Linked DNA regions of Homo sapiens: regions 2, 3 and 4 are each linked to region 1. The links come from fine-mapping of genetic effects on gene expression. A gene starts in region 1. Each other region holds a variant in brackets. All regions are shown on one strand. Distances are between the middles of the regions.

Region 1 (5,336 bases):
CCTATAAATAGTGATGATTCACTAACATGACATAAATCAAGATTTTAACTCACCAAAAACTAACATTTTGATTTAAAAACACAAATCAGTGCCATTAAAATTCATCAGCGGCCCCTAGCACATGAGTAATGAGATCATATCAACTTATATCATGTAACTAAAAGGAAAAGGTGGTTTTCTAAATGGTAATTCAGATTGGACAAATAACACACTGTATCAAGTTTTGTAGCTCTAGGCCATATTTTGCTAAACACAAAGGTACATTATGCATGACTAAAGAAAACAGTGAAAATCAGAGCAATTAATTTCCCAGCTATGTTTCCCATAAAAAGACATCACTACTATGATCTGCTTATAACACAAACTTTTTTGCATTGCACAATGATCTAAGTGTGTAATAACTTACATATTTCACTAAGATGTAACATCCTTCAAAACATCCTTATAATGAAAGTTTTCCAAAAACATTATTGATCACCGGCATGTCTCATGTTTTAAAATTACTGACGAATCCTTTACTATTTTCTTTACAGCTAGAAATAATTCTTCTTGATCACTAGAGTGTAAAGGGGTATAAAGTACAAAGACTGAATATTTTCTTAAATACTAACATCCCAGTTGACACAGGACATTTCCCATAACTTGCCCAAAACAATAATTAGGAGAGTTGTCACTGGAATCCTAAAAATATATGTAAGAAAACAGAGATTCGTTGGCATCAATTTAGCACAGCAAGAGATTTCCATTAAGTGCTTTTTCAAATTATTTGCAAACACTTTTTAGCTGAACCCTCTCATTTCCAGTGGAGCCTTTTATGTTTCTTTGCAGAACTCAAGAACCTTTTCTCAGGTGGCTCTGCTTTGCTGCAGGTAAGTTTGGTATTAACACATTTTCTTTATCTGTTGGAGGTAGTGAAACGGCTCTCTTCCTCCGTTGTCTTTCACTGGCACCTTTGTGGCCGCTCGTAGTCACTGACCTCACCTTGCTGGAAAGGTGGCTAAGAAAAGAGCAGTTTCTAATAACTCAAGGGAACTGCAGCGTTTCCATTCAGAACAAACAGCAGGACCCAGCTGGAGGGGTGCAGCTCTAAAGAAGTAAGACCCGCACCACAGCGGACAACTTCCAGAGGCTCTTCTCCAACACCGCCAAACACAGGCGGAAACACGGAGCCTGGACAGAAAGAGGGACGAGCAGAGAGATGGGCGCAGAGAGCAAGAGACAGGGGAGCCAGGAAGACCGGGAGCGAAAGCCTCTTGAGAGAGAGAGAGAGACCAAAAGATTGTGCGAAAGTGACAGAGGGAAGAGGATGAAGGGACAGAGGAGGGACACACTGGGAGAGCCAGAGCAGGCGGTGGGGAGAGGGAGACAGACGCACGGAAGGAAAGAGAGACCGGGGGGAGAGGCAAAGGATAGCAATAAGGAGAGGAAGGGAGAAAGGAAGAAAAGGGAGAGAATGAAAGACCCAGAACTTGAGAGAGAGGCATAGAGAGAGAGAAGCAGGAGAGAGAGGAGAAGAGACAGGCAACTGAAGCAGAGACGGAGCCCAGTCCAAGGCGCCGGGACCAGCCCGCTGCGCACTTTCCCCCACGGCAAGGCTGGGTCTCGGGAGGCGTCCGGGGCAGGTGGGTGCCTGCGGGTCCCGCCTGGGCTGGCCCTGGGCCCCCGCCCCGCCGGGCTCCCTCCCATTTCCCGGATTCCGCGACTGCCCTCAGCTCGCCCTCCCGCCCCATCCCTCCGCTCGCAGGTCCGACTCCCTGCCTTGGGGCGTCCCTACAGCCCGAAGCACGTGTCCCGCCCGCCGCCGCCGCTGCCCCGACTCCTCGCCTGCGCAGGCACGAGGCCTCGGGGTCCCGGCAGAGCCGCCCGCGCACAAAGCCGAGGCGGCCACCGCCTGACCCCCTCCCCGCCGCCGCCACCGCCCCACGGCCGCGCAGCCCGCCCTCGCTCTCGCCCTCTCCCTCGCGCGCTCCGTCCTGCCTAGGGCGACCGCCGCCCAGCTCCGCACCCAGCCGCTACCCGTCCCGCGCCGCCCCTCGCTCTGCCCGGCTCTCGCCGGCTCGGCCGCCTCCCGCGCGCTCGGGAACTCGGCCACCCGCAGGGGACGGGGCCCCGCCGCGCGCGCCTTACCCGCGGCTGCGCTCCCGGCTCCCGCGTCCTCAGCGCCGCGGTCTCCGCACTGCCCGGCGTCCCGCGAGGCCCCGCCGACTCCGCGCCCCGCGCCCGGCTGCGCCGTCAACTTCTGGCCGCCGCGGCCGCTCCGCCGCCGCCGCCGCCGCCACCGCGGGACTTTTTTTTTTTTTTTTTTTTTTTTTCCCTCTCGCTCCTCGGCTGCCTCTGGAATTTTTTTTTTTCACTTGCCCTCTCCAGCTCCCACTAGTGATTGGAGACTGAGAGCCAAGTACTTAGCGGAGGGATTACACTTCTCAACGCACTTGGAGCGGCCCCAGCGCCGCCGCCTGTGTGCGGAGTGCGGAGCCGACTTGGGGAGCGGCGGGGTGCGGGCCGGAGGCAGCCCGGGTACAGGGGTGCGCTTCCCAAGCCCCGTCCGCTGCTCAGAGCATCCCCAAGATTTCCCTCATGGGTCCTGTCCTGGTTGTTTAAGAAGGTTTCCAGAAAACCTCCTGGTTTGAAGAACAAAGATTCGTGGAATTATTGTACCTTGAGAGCTGGAAAGGGCTCGCAGAGATGATATAATGTCGTGGATTTCAACTTTTCGGGGCCATAGACACTTTTCAGAAATTGATAAAACGTTGACACACCTTGTAAAAAATGAACACATTAAAATTAAGCCTGCAGTTTGAGGTGGGGGTTTTAAGAATCTTGAAATATATACAGTTGAGCGTCCAAGGGAAATGAAATATTTCCCTTCTACATATTTTTTGAAACCGTTAAACGAAAACAACCACCAAAAAATTAAAAATAAAAAAATAAAACCCAAAAGAGAAAACCCATTCCATTTGTATTTGATGACAGTTTACAGTTAGTCGTGTTTCTTTTGGAAAAGTATGTAACGTCTTATACTTTGTGGTCTCCTTGCTAAGTCTTTAAGTGTTGAAACACTTTCTAAGTGGGTAAATATAAAGTAAGCTAGTTCACAGTCAGAAATTTGGGGAGAATAGTTAACCTCTTTAAAATCAGCCATTTTGCCAACTCTATTTCCCAGGGAGATATCTCGTGACTTCCAAATACTCTTTTCCTTTCAATACCTTTCAGCTTCCCACTCTCCAGCATTACTTATTTTCTCCTTCTGTAAAATTTTTTTCCTCCAAAATATTGACAAACAGTCTCTGGTCACCACCAAGTGTGTGATCTAAGTCATTTTTTTTTTTAACAGTTTTTCACCCTGAAGTAACTTTCTTCCAATTTTCTTCATATCTATTTCTATATTCAATTCTTAGCCTACTATTTTCTTTCAACTACTCCCTTTTCTTAAATTGTTTCTATTAAATCTTTTTTAAACATTAAATGTAATCTTTTTGCACTTATCAATAAAAAATTCATTTGTGTATCAATTTATTTTATGCAGCTTGCACTTAAAGCAGGCGGTGCCCCCAGTGTTTATTGAGTGTATGAAGATGTGGTCATGTTTTTTCTATAAAAGCAATGTTAGAGTCTCCACAAAGGTCTTTTTGCCCCATGATATATCTGCATTGTGATTTCTAATGCCAAACTGGAAGAAGAAAGGTATCTGAAAGAAAATTTCCAAAACAAGTGAAATTAGTCATTGACATCATCTGACCTTCCTTATTCAACCACTGTTCCAGTCCCCAGTACCAGTACTCATCCTCTTGCCCCAAGAATTCCAAGATAAAATCCATTCATTTTACTCTCATCCCAATTCTTCTCTGATACCCTCACTCCCACCCCTTCCCTTTTCCACCTCCTTTCTTTCAAAACAATAAAGCATATGACTACCTAAATTACCTTCTACCTGGTCCTCAATCCAATTTTTCATCATCTCCATCCTCATATTAACTAAGTGTTTTGTGGGGAGAAGGGGGCTTGAAGACACGGAAATTATAACTTCTACACCATTAAAATAAAAGACAAAGCAAGGAATTATGAGCTATTATGTAATTAACTAAAAATAATAAATTATCGAAAATGAAATGTGAGTTTAGAAATATGAGTTTTAAATATTGAAAATAAGATACCAAATTATAATTCATTACAGAGCTTATGATTGTATACATAGAAAAGCTTAGAGAATTTACTGGAAATCCATAGAACTAAAAATGTAATGTGTTGATCATTGTCAATATCTCATCAACATTAAGCAAGTTTAAAGAGGAAAGAAACCTGATTGAATCTATCCTTTCTACTGTGTGAATTACTGATAATTTGTATTTGACAGCTGTATAATCTCCCTTAGAATTGGAGCACTCATAAACTGCAGTGAAATAAAGCAGACATTATGCAGAATGTTTTGGAGCTAGTGGTATTGTCACCTGTATCTTTTCAGAAGTTGCACTAAGGATTATCTTTCCTTGGCTTAACTCCTCCATTCAGCAAATATCCTTCAGAGAATCTGCTGGGTATAAGATACTGATTCAGGGAATACAGGCATCTCTGGATAGAGAAGACACAGATTCCACTTCAATCAACTTGCAGACAAGGAGACAGATTTTTTTAAATACCTTGTTTAAATATATTTTTTAAAATTCCAAATCAGAGAACAAAGGAAATTCCTGTAGGTCTTTGGGATGAAAAAAAAAAAGCACTCCAGGTGGGAGAAAATGGGGTACAGGGGAAACTGTGTTTGAGGTGGGCCTTAGATGGTAACATTTCTGTAAGCAGGAATGGGGAGCCTTGGAAAGAAGCTATTCAAAAATCAACATTTTTGAGTGCCTATGACAAACCAAGTCCTGGTATTTGAGAGGCAAACTCTGTCCATTCCTTCTTGAAACTCATAATACAGAAGAAACAAGATACTTAAAAAATATATAGAACTTTCTATGAGAAGTGCATTAATGCATGAACACACAATTTTTGGAGCATAGAAAAATGAACTATTCTGCCTAGAAATCTCAGGAAAACCTTCCTAGAGTAGTCACATTTCATAAGGGTCCTGAAGGATCTTTAGAGATCAAAGCGGGGCTAGAAAGAGAATAAACATCCTAAGCAAGGAGAACCCTATGAAAAAGCATGGCGTGTTTAGAGAACAGCTGGTATCTCAGTGCTGCTATCCAAGTGATGAGGAGAAGGTGCAGCAGATGACTCTCTTAGGCTAAGCAGGGTTCAGAAATAACCTTCTCAAACATACTAATGAAATTGATTTTTTCCTTATTAGGTAATGGAGAAGCACTGGAGATTTGTAAGCCACGGAGTCAAATGGT
Region 2 (5,336 bases), 99 kb before region 1:
AATTGAAAAGATGGAAAGCGTTTTAAAATTTAAAAGACGGAAGTTTTTTTAAAATCCTGTTAAAAAGTAATTCTTTTTTTAAAAAATTATTAACTAGAACGTGCATTTCTTTCAACTTCACTTTACAACTTACAGTGAATACTACCCATTCTAACATAAAGAGTGGCCTCTTGAAGCTCAGTTCTCTCATCTCCCAATTTAGTTGGCTCTAGACAGTCTGATGGGACAACAGTTCAAATTCTTCAAAAAAGGCAAGCATCTAAATCACTTCCAGATCTGCCTCTGATAGTGTAAAAGTCTTGCATTAATAAAATAATTAAGGCAATTATAAATTATGTTGACATGCTTATCTATTAACATAATTGCAAAAACAAAGGTAGTCATCTCTAAAGAAAAAGAGAAAATAGAACAACAATGTAAACAAAAATTCCTTTGGACTTAATCTCATCTGTGAATAATTAGAAGAATTTAAGTGGATTTGGAAGGGGTGGTGAAAGACTGAGGAGATAGGATTACAGTGTCTTTCACTTTGATGTATTAAAAATGAAGTAGAAGTTACAAAGTTTAAACACACATACACATGCACACACCCATACCCTTCAACCATCAACAGCAACTAGCCTACCTGCCCCATTTTTCATTTGATTGGAGTTAATACAAATAACAAGAGTTGTATTCAAACTTTGATTAAAACAAAATGAACAGAAAACAACTATTTTCACTCTTCTTAGACTCAAGATAACTCTTTCCATTTTTTGGTCTATTTGAACTAATTTACAGTTCAGGAGAAACTAACTCATGTATATCACTAAAAATTTGGTCAAAATATCTCTTGCCACATCTTAAAATAAATGCCTAATCCAAAATTCTATAATAGAAAAAAATTATGGCATGAATTCCATCAGAAGGATGGTTCCATTTTATGTCTTCTAATGACTAAGTTTTATAGCCAAATTTATTTTCTATATTTTTTACTTGCTATATATTTTTATAACAAAAGCATTGCATTTCTATTGAAATTCTTGTTGAGGAAAATTCAGGAGTTACATACAAGCATAAAACAATTCTATTCAGTGATCATTTTAAATTATTTGGTGTATTGGCCAGGCACGGTGGCTCACGCCTGTAATCCCAGCATTTTGGGAGGCCGAAGAGGGCAGATCACGAGGTCAGGAGATCGAGACCATCCTGGCTAACATGGTGAAACCCTGTCTCTACTAAAAATACAAAAAAAAAAATTAGCCAGGCGTGGTGGTGGGCACCTGTAGTCCCAGCTACTCGGGAGACTGAGGCAGGAGAATGGCGTGAACCCTGCAGGCAGAGCTTGCAGTGAGCCAAGATTGCGCCACTGCACTCCAGCCTGGGCGACAGAGCGAGACTCCGTCTCAAAAAAATAAAAAAATAAAAATAAAAAGTAAATAATCTGGTGTATTTACTTCCATTTTACATAAACATATGTTTTTCAAAAATATATTTTTGTCATTAACACATTGTTTTCTAAACTGATATTTAAAGAACATTCTGGGAGATATTAGTATCTATTCCACTAAAAAAAGTGTTGTATTGTTTAAAATAGGTTTAAGCAAATTTAACAGATGTCTTTTTGAGGACATCTCAGAGCCTATAATGAGCTAACACTTATTATGCTTTTTCAAGTAATAATAAATGACCTGGGAAGTAAGTCATAATAAATCTGGGTAGCAAGCAGCTTCCCAAATTTATTTCCTACTTAATATATTTATTCTCCTTGTTCATCTGTTAGCTTCTAGCTTGGGAAATGTATAAAGTACATTATATCGGAAGGATATTCTTACATAAAATTTTGTAAACTAAAATTTTTTAAACCATGATTTTAAGGCCATAAATTATTACATCTAAATATCTTATAGTCCACTAGATTTTTTCCAAATTCTGTTGTCATTTTATATAGATCTTACTATATGTGTGTAACTATTCATTGAAGATAAAGTGCTAACCTTCTACAGAAAATGGTACAAAACTGCCTAAACGGCTACATATTTCACATAGCACCTTTTCACTGAACTTGTATCAAAAGTATGTTGTCATTTGCTTAAATATTTGTTAATTTGGCACATTTTCTTAAATATTTGTTAATTTATTTTAATTTGCATTTATTTGCATAAGAGTAAGGCCTTTTTTTCATATTTTATCAGACATTTGCATTTATCTTTCTCAGACTGGATTTTAGTTCTCTCTCCTCCATACTTTTTTATCTCATTCTTTTCATTTCTTGATCCTTCTCTTGAA[A/C]TCTGAAAGAGTTCCTGAAGCATACTCTTTACTTCAGTTTTTAAAATCATGAATTCTTTCTTGCCCCCTCTGCAGATTTGTGTCCAACCCTGTTTTAGTGTTCCTTGCAATCTTCCCAAACCTTTAGAGAAGCAGTCTGTTCTCCTTAGAGCTCTTTGCTGAAGTTTCATAAATATCATATCTTCTACCTTCTGTTATGCTAAACTGTTTTCTAAGTGTTCTAGTCATTACAAATATTTCAAAAAATGTGCTTTCCTCTTGCATCTTCAGGATGATAGGCCCTCACCTGGCATAGTTTTCTAAATTAGGTCCCAAGTTGTTTGCCACCTTTCTACTGCCTTTCTGTAATGATGACGGCATCTACCACAAAACAGTTTGGCCTGCCCATTATGCCCTTAGCTGATTATAGACATCCCTTTTCAATGCTATAGCAAGAATGTAGAAAGATATGAAGAGTTAGAAGCCCAGTTCTCAGTGACTGTGATACATTCATTTAAAGCTGGTCTTCTGGACTGCAGCAGGACCTTCTTGTTACATATTGTTAATCAGCAAAAGGAGCACTTGAAAACTAAAATGCCTACCATTGAGTTCTCTGTCCCCACCTTGAGCCCTTTACAGGAGGAAACCCCCTCCTTTCAGGATGCAGTAGTCAGCTGCTCCCCCTCTCCCAGGTTCTTGCTGTTTTCTATGACTTACGCTGCTAGCTGGCTGGAGAAAGACATAAGAAGAGAATAGAGACATATGGAACAGGAGGTCAGGAGGCGGCATCAGTGATGATAATGCTACAGCATCCTCAGAAAAACGGCACCCCTGCAGCAGATGGAGGGCTGCCCAGTTTTCTAGCTGTTAAAAGATCATGGGTCTCTGAGCAAGCAGCAGATCTTATCAAAAAAACAACAACAACAAAAACTACCTCTACATTTCTTACTTTGGATAGCTGGGTTTTCTTTTTCATGAGACAATCTGTTTTTTTCCCCAGGCCAGCTCCTTATAGGTGAAAGAAATGCATCAAAATTTCTAGCAATTGTCAGTCTTTTTTGTTGTTGTATTCCCCCTGGGCCTTCACTGGTCTTTTAGCAGAAAACTGGAAGAGGCTGTGTTAACAACTGCAAAGTTATTCGAAGTTTTATTTTATTTTCATTTGACAAATACTAACTGTACACATTTATGGGGCACACAGTGATGTTTCAATAAATTACTGAGATTTAAATAATCAATTCAGACCTCTCTAAAATTTAAATGTAAGTTAAAATCTGATTATTTCACTTCCAAGCACAAGAATTTGATTAACTCAAATAACTTTATTTTAAATAAATTTATTAATGCTGAAAAGAATAATACACAGGAGACTAGAAGGCACTGTTTATCTAGAAGTCACAAATATCACCAGTGGCAGCAATGCACATTCCTTTTCTTCAGTGGTAACTGGAACCAGAAGACTTAGAAACAGGCTTTCCCTTTAGTTGAAGTTGAAGGTGATTAACAAAAAATAAGCACTATCCTCTGTCTTCAGAGTTTTAATTATCCCGTATTTTTGTTACGTACATGTTATGTTATTTTAAAAGAGATGGGAAGAGCTTTTCTGAAGGTCTATGTTAGACATAGTTTCATAGTGATGAAAAACATCTGAAAAGAGTCATCGGCACACCAGTGCAATTTAGAGCAAATGCTGTAGAGTCCGAGAAACCTGAGTTTAAGTCCAGGCTCTACTATTTAATAGCTGTGTGACCTTGAGCAAGATAATTAACCTCACTATGGCTCTGATTTCTTTTCTATCAAATGAAGATATTAATAATGCTTGCTTCATCAGATGGTTATGAGACTTAAAATGAGAGAGAAGGCAAGTAACATAATAACTGTTAGATAAGTGCTCTATAAATGTTTGGTGTTCTTATCCCCCCACATATTATAAAATAAAATAATCTCAATATGAACCAGAATTCCTTTAAAGAAGGATCCTTTAAAGAAGACTAAAGGATCTTTTTAATAATCATCCACAGTGGTTTGTTAGAACTGATAATTTGTTTACAATTTTTTTGCACCTAGATTATTATGGTTGGTGCCATCCAATATATGTTAGGCATATTCTGGAATAAAAGAATGTGAATCCTTTGTCCTTATTGATTATATTTCAGTATAAGAGATGATAATTGAATAGACTACAAAGAAGGAAAAAAGAAAAATACTGATGCTTTAGAAAATAGCCCTCAAGTTTAAAAGCTTACAACCCTAGAGCAGAGGTTCTCAAGGGGATCACATAAAGAGTAGCTTTTTGGAAAATAAGTTATCGCATTTTTGGCTTGCACAATGACTAGGGAGCATGTCTTTCTTTTCATGGGCCAAGAATAGGCTTGCTAGGTTTACTGCAATACAGGAGACTGTCCCAAACGAAGAGTTTTCATGGGTCCCTCAAGACTCTTGAATGAATGGCTGGACTCATGAGAGTGAAAAATATGTTTAATTATCTCAGTCTAGAACCTTACTGCATTTTACATATAAATGCATAGTATTTATCAAAGATTTTAAATACATACTGAATTCCAAGAAGGCAACAACTACATAAATCAAGAGATTTGTGTTGTTCAGAGCCTTGTCACCGTTATCAAAAACTTGCATCCACAATCTCAATACCCCTTGTTGTTTCTGAGTCACTGATACAACAAAACTTTTTCAGCCTTCATTTGTAAATATGCTGTTCATAGTGGTGCTACATATAAGTACAAGAATCTATCTACTTCATTATTCTTATTATAGTCATGTCCACATATTTCCATATTCAAATTCATTATTTTTCAAAATGCACTTCTTAAATGTTTTTATAAAATTATTTTCATATAATCTCTCCTTTATATTAGGGTACAATTACAGTAGAGCATCATGTCCATTTTTTATCATTTCAGGATACGAAAGGCCTTATTCAATAGATGAGGCATCTTGGGGCTTGCTAGAAGGAATAGAGAGCTTCACAGTAGTCCTCAAATATATGAAGATAGCCCAGGGGAAATGCAAATAATTCAAACAGTTACTTTCCTTCAACTACAGATTGAACAGGAAATAAGTTTAATTTG
Region 3 (5,336 bases), 52 kb before region 1:
ACTGGGACAGGTGCACATCCCATAATTCCTCCATAAATCACAAAATGTCTACCTTTTTGGAATTCCAGCATCCAAACCAAGTCATGAGCTTTCAAAGCTTTCACTGCTCTACTCATGCTGTTCTTTGTCTTGAATACTCTAACCCCTTTCCATTCCAGGCAAATACCCATTGATTTTTTCAAGGCCAAGTGGATATGTTATATTTTCTCTTAAAACTTCACAAAGCCTCTTAAAACATACTAGGCTGTTGCTCCTTCCCTGCTTCTTCTATAACAGTATGAAGCTTCTCCTCTAACTGACTTTAAATTTTGGAGGACTAGGTACTAAGTGAATTAATCACATAGCACATAGTTAATGCTCAATAAGTGCTTGTTTAATGAATAAGAATATAAAACAATGTCCTCTGGCAAGCAGACCACATAACCTGGAAGAAAAAGTCTTCAAACATTCTCTAGATATTGTTTCTATCATTTCTACAACATAAAATTTTTGAACTATAAAAGTTAAATATTTTCACATTTTCAAGCTGCAAAACGACTTTATGGGGACCCTTTACATCTCAAAACCTATAAATTCTATGAAAAATAAATTTCCACATCGCAGAATATGCTAAAATTATGTTTATATGGAAATACTGGCACGATATTTCAGGAGAAAACTTTTTTTGGCACTCACTCACAGGGAGCAATAAATCATTTCCTTCTGCAAATGAATGTTATTGTGGGTGGGCCTTTCATACAGAGAAAATATTTGGATTCAAAGGTTCCCTCCCTGGCATTTGAGAAAGTTGTCATGACCAAGGTATCGAAGCTTAGCAGTTCTTTAAAACTTAGAACTTAAACTCCGGAATTTTGTACTCAAGCATTTGTATAAGCCTGATTTTTTAAAGGGCCATCAATTCTCTTAATAATCATCCTAGATCAGAGTATAATAATTATATTGAAGTCATTTTATTCACAAATGCAAAGAAATAGTGATTTAAGAAGACTGAATTGCAGCTGATTACAGCTATTCGAGCAAACAGCAGGACTACATTCTTAGTCTTTTGCAGTTAGGTGATGACCTATGCCTCAGCTCTACCTAATGAGATGTGGGCAAAAATACATGCAACTCCTCCAGGCCTGGCCCATGAGAGCCTCCAAAGTGCAAATTCCCTGCTCTTTCTTTGCCTTCAGTAGGTTTCATGCACATAAGTACAATGGAAGCCATACATGAAAGATGGTGGAACCATAAAATGAAATTAGCCTGGGTCCTTGCATTGCTAATCAGCCAGCCAGCTATTGGTCAGAAAACCTGTTCTGGACTTTATGTCAATGAGAAATAAACTTCTATTTCTCCTAACGGTTAATTGAGCACTACACATTTTGAGATACACCTGCTATGCAACATGATATTCTTGTTATCATGACCAAATATAGTCACTGAATCAGAAAATTAATATGAGAACACTAATTCATCATTCTTTATTGTGCTATGTTTTTCTCAGTTCCATTTCACAGGGAATCAAATAAACGTCGTAACTTATAACCAGTACATTTTCTACCCAATCTAACACTGTGTTGTGCACTACACACATACACATGCACACACGCACACATGACTGATGAAGACGCTTGATCCCTTCTTTAAAGAATCATGCCAAACTAATCTAATCAGTATTAACTAACTCTCTAATATGTGCCTGACACTGAGGTAGCCACTCAACACCAAAGGGTGAAAAGGACACAATGCACCACAGCAGGATTTTATACTTGGCTTATTTCTTCTCTGGCTTCAAGAAACACCATTTAGTTTGTCTTTATAGCAGAAAAGACTTAAATATGAAGTGTATTTTGGATGTTTTGAGACCATACTTTTTCATTTAACTTGGCTCTACCTGCCACATAAAATATAAATCAAATTGCATTTGCTTTGTCTGTGTGATGAAATGTTTCATGTAAGCTCACATCCCAATCTTGCTGTATTCTTGTCCTCTGGGCAACAACACAAGTTACTGTAAGTTTCCATTCCCACATCAAATTTACACTTTCTCCCCTTGCACCGATTTTTTAATTCCAGAAAATCATTATATACTCCCCCAAGAAATAGAAACAAAAATGATCTATTCAACCATTGGTAATATGTGGTTACATACATATTTATAGTGTTGTAAGTTGTTTTCAAATTTCCACATATTGCTTAGTATTTTGAGTAGATTAATATGGCACTCACCAAAGACAGGATATAGCCAATAAATGTTAAACCAATTGTAGCACGTCTCTAACAAAAAACAGTAAAAATACTTCGATGGGCTTGAAAGCAAATAATGCCAATATGTGGA[A/C]TGCTAAGGGAATATGCTCAAAAAGCTGTATTTCTTGAGAGTGGATAGATAGCAACAGCCTACATAATTCTCTCTCCTTGCTCCTTGAGAGTAAATATGAAACAAAAAGGACTGTGCCATTTGGATCTTTGTCAATTGCCAACCCATTTAGGGTCAAAAAAACTGTAAATTCATCTACTGCACTATAGTTTTAGACAACTGTGCAACAACTAAGAGGTGACACTGAACTGTATACTTTCTTTTTTCTAAGAATTCAGATTCTAGAGTGAAATCACAACTGCCATCTAAGGCCTCTCCTCAGGGTAAATGCTGGACTCTACTACTTTTGCCTCAAAACTTGGGATACTGGCAGAGGCCAGATAGATGTTTTGCTTTGTGCAAAAATTTGTTCCCTACGGGAGCAAGCTGTAGAAAGCTAACTGGTATGCTGAATCCTTCAAATTCTTGTCCATTGTTTCTGAAGAGTGAAACAAATGTGTTTTAGAAAAAGGATTGTTTCTCTTTTCTACACTTTGGTGGGGTGGAGCAGTACAATGTACACAAAAGAAAGAGGGAGATAAGTGAATAGGAAAAAAGCACTTAATGAGAATATTTAGTACTAAAGAAGAAAGCAGCTGTAGTGAGTATTTGTTGTGTGTACTCTCTGATCAACAGTTGGCATAATCCTCAGATATCTGAAAGTGATATAATCTGAAGCTTATACATGGAAAAAGGAATTGGCTTCACATTTCGCAGAGTAATAGTAACCTTGTTTCTAACTGACCTTGTGTTCATCTTATTGTGGCTAAACAATTTTGTTTAAATGTAAGAAATAACGGAGTATTCTAAGTACAGCATAGTTTGATGATTAAAAGCATTTTAAAATTATAGTAGTATAAAGGGGATGAAGCAAGAAACTGTTCAATGATAACAATTTTACATGTTCTACCTACATTCAAATACTCAAGCAACAAATATCTATCATGCCCTCCTCATGTGCCTACAGCCCAGTGTGACTCTAAAATTTTGATTAAAATACCATAAAAGTGACCACAAACATGTCAGTGACCAAACACATTTATAAAGGTCCAACCGTAATAATAATCAAAGAACTGTACAATTATTATTATCTTTTTCTTGATACAGAGTCTTGCTCTATCGCCCAGGCTGGAGTGCAGTGGTGCAATCTTGGCTCATTGCAACCTCCAGCTCCCAGGTACAAGCAATTCTCCTGCCTCAGCCTCCCAAGTAGCTGGAACTACAGGCAACCCCCACCACACCCGGCTAATTTTTGTATTTTTAGTAGAGATGGAGTTTCACCATGTTGGCCGAGCTGGTCTCAAACTCCTGACTTTGTGATCCGCCCGCCTTGGCCTCCCAAAGTGCTGGGATTACAGCTGTGAGCCACTGCGCCCAGCCTGTAAAACTTTTTTAATTATTAGTATATTAACAAAAACTTTTGGAAATGTAAGAAAGGCCAATGGCGAAATAAAACAGAAACTTATACCAAGCTAGTGTTGACAAAAATAAGCATAATCCTTTCAGATTCTAGTTTTGAAAGTGCATATCTGGAATCTCATAATGTAGATACTTCTTTGAACCATTAAAATTCACTTCCGGCAACTAGCCTAAAGCAAAACCATAACCATACAAAAAGCTGTATGACCAAAATTGCTCATTTCAGTATTACTTCAAATAAAAAACTGCAACCAAATTAAACATCTCACAGTGTGGGAGTGGCTGAGTAATTTACTGTATTAAGCAGGATCTAACATTCAGTAGCCATTAAAATTAAAATTATGTAATGTTGCTATATTATCAAATAGTAATATAATAATTATGACCAATCTAAAATATGTATAGAGAAAAAGGTATAGACTAAAATACCTAAAAACTACCAGTTGTTTTCTTTAGGTAATGGGGCCATGGGTAATTTTTCTTCTGTCTAATTTTCCATAAATCCCACATTTTGTATATTGAGTATCTAACATCTGTTAATTAGAAAAAAGTATTAAGTATATGAAAGAAAATGCAAAAACATTTAAAATAGCATTCAGAACAAATCTGGTATCCATTTAAGCTTTAAAAGGCTACAAAGTAACAAGTACACATAATAGCAAAATAGAGATTTACAATTTATAAATATTTTAAGTACAATGTTGCACTGGAAAAAAAAAGTTTTCATTATTATTTTAAATGCTGAAGCAGGCCAGCATGGTGGCTCACCCCTGTAATCCCAGAACTTTGTGAGGTCCAGGCAGGTGGATCACTTGAGGCTAGGAGTCTGAGACCACCAGCCTGGCCAACATGGAAAAACCTCGCCTCTACTAAAAGAACAAAAATTGGCCAGGCATGGTGGCAGGCGCCTGTAATCCCAGCTACTTGGGAGGCTGAGGCACAAAAATCTCTTGAACCCGGGAGGAAGAGGTTGCAGTGAGCCAACATTGTGCCACTGCACTCCAGCCTGGGCGACAGAATGAGACTCTGTCTCAATAAAAAGTAAATAGATGCTGAAGCAATATAAAACAAAGCTCAATTAAACATATTGCTGGACCTAGACTGAATTAACTTTCTATTCTCCACAGTTTAAAAAACTTATATTCTCTCCAGTTACAATGTTTCGGGTGTGGCTGAAACATTCAAGTGATTTGCTATAACCATATTTCACTACTTAAAGTTAAAATTATTATTAATTACTAAACATTATCAGTAAATTGATTTACAACAAAAAGTACATTCACCATCTTTCTCACACACCTCTCCCCCAAAACCCAGTTTTTTCATTCAAGAATTAGGACACACAGCTGGTTCTTTGGCTCACACCTGCAATCCCAGCAATTTAGGAAGCCAAGGTGGGCAGATTGCTTGAGCTCAGGAGTTTGGCAGCCTGGACAACATGGTGAAATCCCATCTGTACTAAAAACTGCAAAAATTAGTTGGGCATGGTAGTGGGCATCTGTGGTCCCAGCTACCAGGGAGGCTGAGGTGGGAGGATCGCTTGAGCCTGGGAGGCAGAGATTGCAGTGAGCAGAGATCA
Region 4 (5,336 bases), 260 kb before region 1:
GAACTGACTTAGTGAATTTTGGTAGACCAATGGGAAATATCAAAATGCCAAAAAAAGAAAGGAATATCCTAATCAGCATTTATTTAGCTGTATTAACATCATGAAAGAAAAATAATAAGCAGCTAAAGTGTTTAATTTGGTATAATGCTATTGATTTCATAATACATTAACACCAGGTTTAAATTTTATTAAATCAGATGAACCAAAGCCTGAATAATATGCTAGGTTAAAAACCTTCTTTAAAATCTCTAACTTATAGCTACTCCACACCATGTAAATGATGCAAGAATTCATAAACACAAAAGTATGCAATAAGACAATCACTGCATTTGCACTGCATTCTTTCTAGGCCAAGTAAGTACTGTACTTTCTTCCATGTTGAATATAAATATGGTAGGAATTGAAAGAAAAAGCTACAAAGAATTTGTAACTGCTATTTCCCATTATATTTTAGACCTAGGGAAAAAATTAAAAATTAGGAATACGCTATTTGTTACTTAATCCCATACAACTCCATACTTGCATGCCCATATATGACTATTTCTTTCAGCGTATTTTCTTCATAAAGTCTCAAGCATCTTTGCAATCCAGTGATCATAAATAAGATAGCCAGACACGGTGGCTTATGCCTGTAATCTCAGCACTTTGGGAGGCAAGGCAGGAGGATCACTTGAGGCCAGGAGTTTGAGATCAGCCTGGGCAACAAAGCAAGACCTCATCTCTACAAAAATAAAATTAAAAACATTAGATGGTTATGATGGTATGTGCCTGTAATCCTAGCTACTCAGGAGGCTGAGGCAGGAGCATTGCCTGAGCCCAGGCTGCAGTTCAAGGCTGGAGTTGGAGGCTGCAGTGAGTAACGATCGTGCCACTGTACTCTAGCCTAGGCAACAGACAATAACGTGTCTCAAAACTAATAACAAAATAAAAATAAATTGGTGTTTCACCAGTAGACGGCACCATTTACGTAGGGCAAGTTTCTCAATCCCAGCAATATTAACATTAACATTTTGAGCTAGATAACTCTTTTTTTTTTTTTTTTTTGAGATGGAGTCTTGTTCTGTCACCAGTCTGGAGCGCAGTGGCGCAATCTCGGCTCACTGCAACCTCTGCCTCCCGGGTTCAAGCAATTCTCCTGCCTCAGCCTCCTGAGTACTTGGGACTACAGGCATGTACCACCACGCCCAGCTAATTTTTTGTATTTTTAGTAGAGACCGGCTTTCACCATGTTGGCCAGGATAGTCTCGATCTTTTGACCTCGTGATCTGCCCGCCTCGGCCTCCCAAAGTGCTGGGATTACAGGCGTAAGCCACTGCGCCCAGTTGATAATTCTTTTTTGTAGGAGACTGTCCTTGTAGTGTAAGATGTTTAGCAGCATCCTTGACTTCTACTCATTAGATCCTGGTGGCATCCCTACCTAGCAGTAAAAATAAAAAATGTCTCCAGACATTGCCAAATGTCCCCTGGGAGACAAAATTGTCTCTGGGTTGAGAACTGCAGATTTAAGGCAATGGGTTTTCATTTTAATTGCAAATTTAAATTAAGATAAATCAAGATTCTCTGGCAAGGTACAAATATAATCAAACTTTATTATTATATAATAAACTATAAGGTGCATAACACCCAAGCTTGTATAAATTTACACTATTCTCTTCAATAATAATTTTAAATTTTATCAAGGTACCAATATTGGCAGTAACTATTTCTGATTTTCCAAAAATATACCCCAATTAAAATATTTCCTTTCACCACTTGAGGACGATTTATTTTGATTTTGGTCTAACTTAAACAGCTAGGAGTAAGTACAGGAAGTTTTATCTGAAAAATGAACATGGACCAAGTCTTATAAATTGGCCCTAGTGCTATTTCCTATCATAGCTCCTGTTTGTTTACACTGGAGTCCTTATAAATTGAGTGTTATTTCCTTTCCACTAAGTTTCAAGGTATTAACAGCCAAGGAGGTGTTTTTCGACTTCTTCCTCCCTCCCTTTCTCTCACTTTCCACAAATAAATAATGCCTTGCATGGATCACAATTTTAAGACCAGTCCCCAAACTTCAAAACTACTAATACAGTGAACTGATTTTACCTAAACCCACCTTTATATTTAAAAACATAACAGTTTCTCTATAATGGAAAGGAACAAAATATGCATTCTCTAGTAGGTAACTTTACTTTCCAACAATATCATTTATCTAGTCATTTCACAGCTAAACCTTGCAAATTCTTAAGTAAAGCAGTTCCATTTATTTTGACTTCCTGCCTAGCCTCTTCCTTCCAGAGAAAACATTATTCTAATATTTTTATCCATTAAGTACTCTTAAAATTAAATGCCCCTATTTAAACAAAATTTGTTACCCTCACTCCAAAAATGAGGACGCTGGGCACAATTAAGGAGGCAAATGTTTTTCAGTTCTCTGGATAAAGTTATATTTGTCTAGTTTTAAAGAAGCATAGGTTATTTCCATTAGCGACTTCCATTCATGTGAATTACTACAACTACAGTGGTAAAACAAGTGGCTTTGTATGCAATATGAAGCGGTATTCGACAGTTGCAAAACTTCCCTTGACCAGTGAACTTCCAGTGAAAAAAAAACTGTTGAAAGTTCATGCACCCCAATTGCACATTCATTATAATTAAACAAAAAGATTACACAGACATTGCTGACAAGGATTATCAAAATAGATTGGCGCCACCTGCCCCTTGCTATCCCATTAATTAGTATGAAGTCCGAGGTGCCAATTAGCAAGAAGCAGCAGAAAAGGATCAGTAAACACAGCTCAAGCTGAACTTGAAGATTAACTCTTCCAGTTCAGGTTCCATTTCTTAACCACACTAGGTTGATTTGTTTATGCAACCCAAAAT[T/C]GAATCCTAGGCTGGTTTGTTTGTCAGTTTTGAAAAATAGTAGTTATTTATCATTAGGAAGACATTTCAGTTGTGTGAAATAATAATTCCAAAAATAACTGCACAAAAAGCTCATATAATTCCATAAACAAGTGGACACTCAGTATTTCACAGGGATGCAAAATACTTAAAAATCCAGGTAATCCAGTGACTAAAATGCTTTCACATTATAAATTACAGATCTGTGGTAGTTAATATTAACTCAGGGAAACAACTAGAGTACTGTGTGGTTAAGGGTAACTAACATCCCCCTAGCTACTAAATAGCACTTTATGGGCTAGAGCAATATTAACTTTCTAAAAAGCAAGTAGAGTAAATGGCTTCATTATTTGTTTTCTGGAAATATTATTAATCAGCTTTCAATTTATTCATTCTTAAAACAAACTTTCCAAAAACAATATAGGTATTTCCATACAATTCCCAACTCAATCCAAAACTTCTCTGTTGACAGCAACATTATTCTGGATACCTAAAATTACTTCCTTTAAGAACAGTATTGTAAAATGCAAATTATCAGCAAATTAAAATGTGAATTTTATAAGACTGTTGCATGTACATAAAATGATTAGCATGCATTCTTTAATAATTATTTTATATTTCATCACTAAATATTTCAGTTTAACCTATACATTAAAATTTGCTTTACTTAATGTGAACTGACTTTATTAAAAAGATAGTATTATCGCTTCTCAGCCTTTTGGCTAGGATCAAGCATGAAAAGACAGTATTTTCCTCAAACTTTAGAGAGGAATTTTGCCCACAGAAACCTTCCGAATTTGTTTACCCATTTCACAACAGTATTTTCTTTTTGATGTTGACATAAAAGCATCTTATCTCTCTAGAGTTTCCACAACTATAGAGCAGGTGTTCTCTAACAACACTATCTACAAATCCTGAAGAATAAAATGTAGACTCTTTGCATTAGAAAAAGATATATACCAAGGCCATTTCAAGACCCAAATTTCCCAGTGGCAGTACAGTATACACATTGAAAAATGGGAATAACAATCTCAGAGTTGCTGAGAGAATTAAACCAGATAACAGGCTTAAAGGAAAGTTTTTAGGGCAACACTGAAATACTGATGAAATATTGAAATACTGATGCTAAGTGCCAAGATTCATCTGTCTAGGAAACACCTCAAACATTACCTGTGACTGACAACACTCTTAACATCTAACTTTGTGGCACACTGGGGTGAAGCCCAAGAACTGAATGTTTAAGAAACACACATGGTGATTCTAACACAGGCCCCATATGGCCCACACTAACATTGCTTTTAGATATGAACATGCAGAGGCCACATACATGCAAAAAAGTCCCTCGTGATGCAGTAAGAAGACAGGTGGAGAGAACAGGGTAGTGGCTATGGGATCAAAGTCAGATAACCTTTCCCAAGGCAGCAGTAGTTCAGCACAGAATTCACACAAATACAGGAATTATACACTGGAACCTGGCCTTCCAACTTCAGTTCGTTTGAGAAACTGAAAAGAACAATATTGACAGGAAAGAGAGCTGCTTGCATGGCTTGCTGAAGAGTGAAAAGAAACCTTGCAAATTCCTCACTTGGGCATCTTCTGAGAAATCTGAAGAGTGGGGTTAAGGAAAGAGTACACAGTGGATAAACAGCTGAGTCTTCGTGGGGAGGAAAGACCCCCACTCATAGAAGGAAAAACAAAGTGAATGTTTTCCCTATGGAAAAAGAAACTGAAGGAGCAAATAAAATAACTATAAATCTTTTCTCCCTACTGTTGTCTTGTCTGACCAATGCTGCTGTGTCTCCCTATAATAAATCATAGTCCTTAATGAAAAATGACAATTACACTGAAGTTGCACTACCCACAGTTACTTGGTATAAACTGTTGCTTTATATAGTTACATATATTGTGGGTAAGATGGTATACTTGTCAGGGAAAGGGGACAAATATATTTTTATTTAATTGCATGTTAGCTAAATTTATAACTTTTAAATATCTTGACATATGGTCTGCAGTTCTCCATTTGTACTCTTGCCCTGGACCCCGCAAAAGTCAGGAGTAGATGTGGAAAACACTTCGCAAATACTTTGTTAAAGCCTTCCATCTTTCTCCTTCTCTTGCCATTCTTTTCTCTTATCTCTACAATCTATAAATAATTGCAAAATAATTCAAAATACCTGCAATATTTTAACATCCTTTTTAGATATTATGAATATTCTTCCTTAATACTACTCCCAAATTCAAGAAGTGGTAGTTTCTCAAAAGTTTAGTTGCAACATAGATTTGAATCATACGAATAAAACATCTGTATGATGACATTACAATCTATTCTATTATCTTCTACTTTGAATGAATCTCTCATCCATGCATAATTTTGTAACATCATGTGTTGATCACTGATCATTTGAAAAATATCAGCCCACTGAGTTACGCAGAACTTTCAAATGGTAACACAT

Which allele goes with the higher level. Positions count from the first base shown, and alleles are read on the strand shown. Sizes are in standard deviations (SD) of each study's normalised expression.
For the expression in gastroesophageal junction of the gene that starts at base 2,241 in region 1, C is the low allele of the variant in region 2 and A is the other (small effect, 0.16 SD a copy in GTEx).
In carriers of allele C in region 3, the expression in sun-exposed skin of the gene that starts at base 2,241 in region 1 tends to be higher than with A alone (small effect, 0.37 SD a copy in GTEx).
In carriers of allele C in region 4, the expression in pancreas of the gene that starts at base 2,241 in region 1 tends to be higher than with T alone (large effect, 1.2 SD a copy in GTEx).

The links. PIP is the estimated chance that this variant, and not a neighbour inherited with it, causes the effect.
Region 2: its variant is the best candidate, but not a certain one, in a credible set for the expression of BMPR1B in gastroesophageal junction (GTEx, PIP 0.59).
Region 3: its variant is the best candidate, but not a certain one, in a credible set for the expression of BMPR1B in sun-exposed skin (GTEx, PIP 0.65).
Region 4: its variant is the best candidate, but not a certain one, in a credible set for the expression of BMPR1B in pancreas (GTEx, PIP 0.61).

Annotation. Positions count from the first base shown.
Region 1 is chr4:94,754,860-94,760,195 of GRCh38, reverse strand. BMPR1B (bone morphogenetic protein receptor type 1B) reads right to left here and starts at 2,241. Exons shown (of 13, transcript NM_001203.3): 1 at 2,128-2,241. BMPR1B-DT (BMPR1B divergent transcript) reads left to right here and starts at 2,663. Exons shown (of 3, transcript NR_121610.1): 1 at 2,663-2,802; 2 at 5,291-5,336.
Region 2 is chr4:94,854,015-94,859,350 of GRCh38, reverse strand. The region is part of intron 1 of BMPR1B (bone morphogenetic protein receptor type 1B); the gene reads right to left. Among named protein-coding and RNA genes, the nearest start is that of BMPR1B, 99 kb to the right of the region's middle. The variant A/C (reference allele first, on the strand shown) is at 2,269.
Region 3 is chr4:94,807,157-94,812,492 of GRCh38, reverse strand. All of the region lies in intron 1 of BMPR1B (bone morphogenetic protein receptor type 1B), which reads right to left. Among named protein-coding and RNA genes, the nearest start is that of BMPR1B, 52 kb to the right of the region's middle. The variant A/C (reference allele first, on the strand shown) is at 2,321.
Region 4 is chr4:95,016,286-95,021,621 of GRCh38, reverse strand. All of the region lies in intron 3 of BMPR1B (bone morphogenetic protein receptor type 1B), which reads right to left. Among named protein-coding and RNA genes, the nearest start is that of BMPR1B, 260 kb to the right of the region's middle. The variant T/C (reference allele first, on the strand shown) is at 2,866.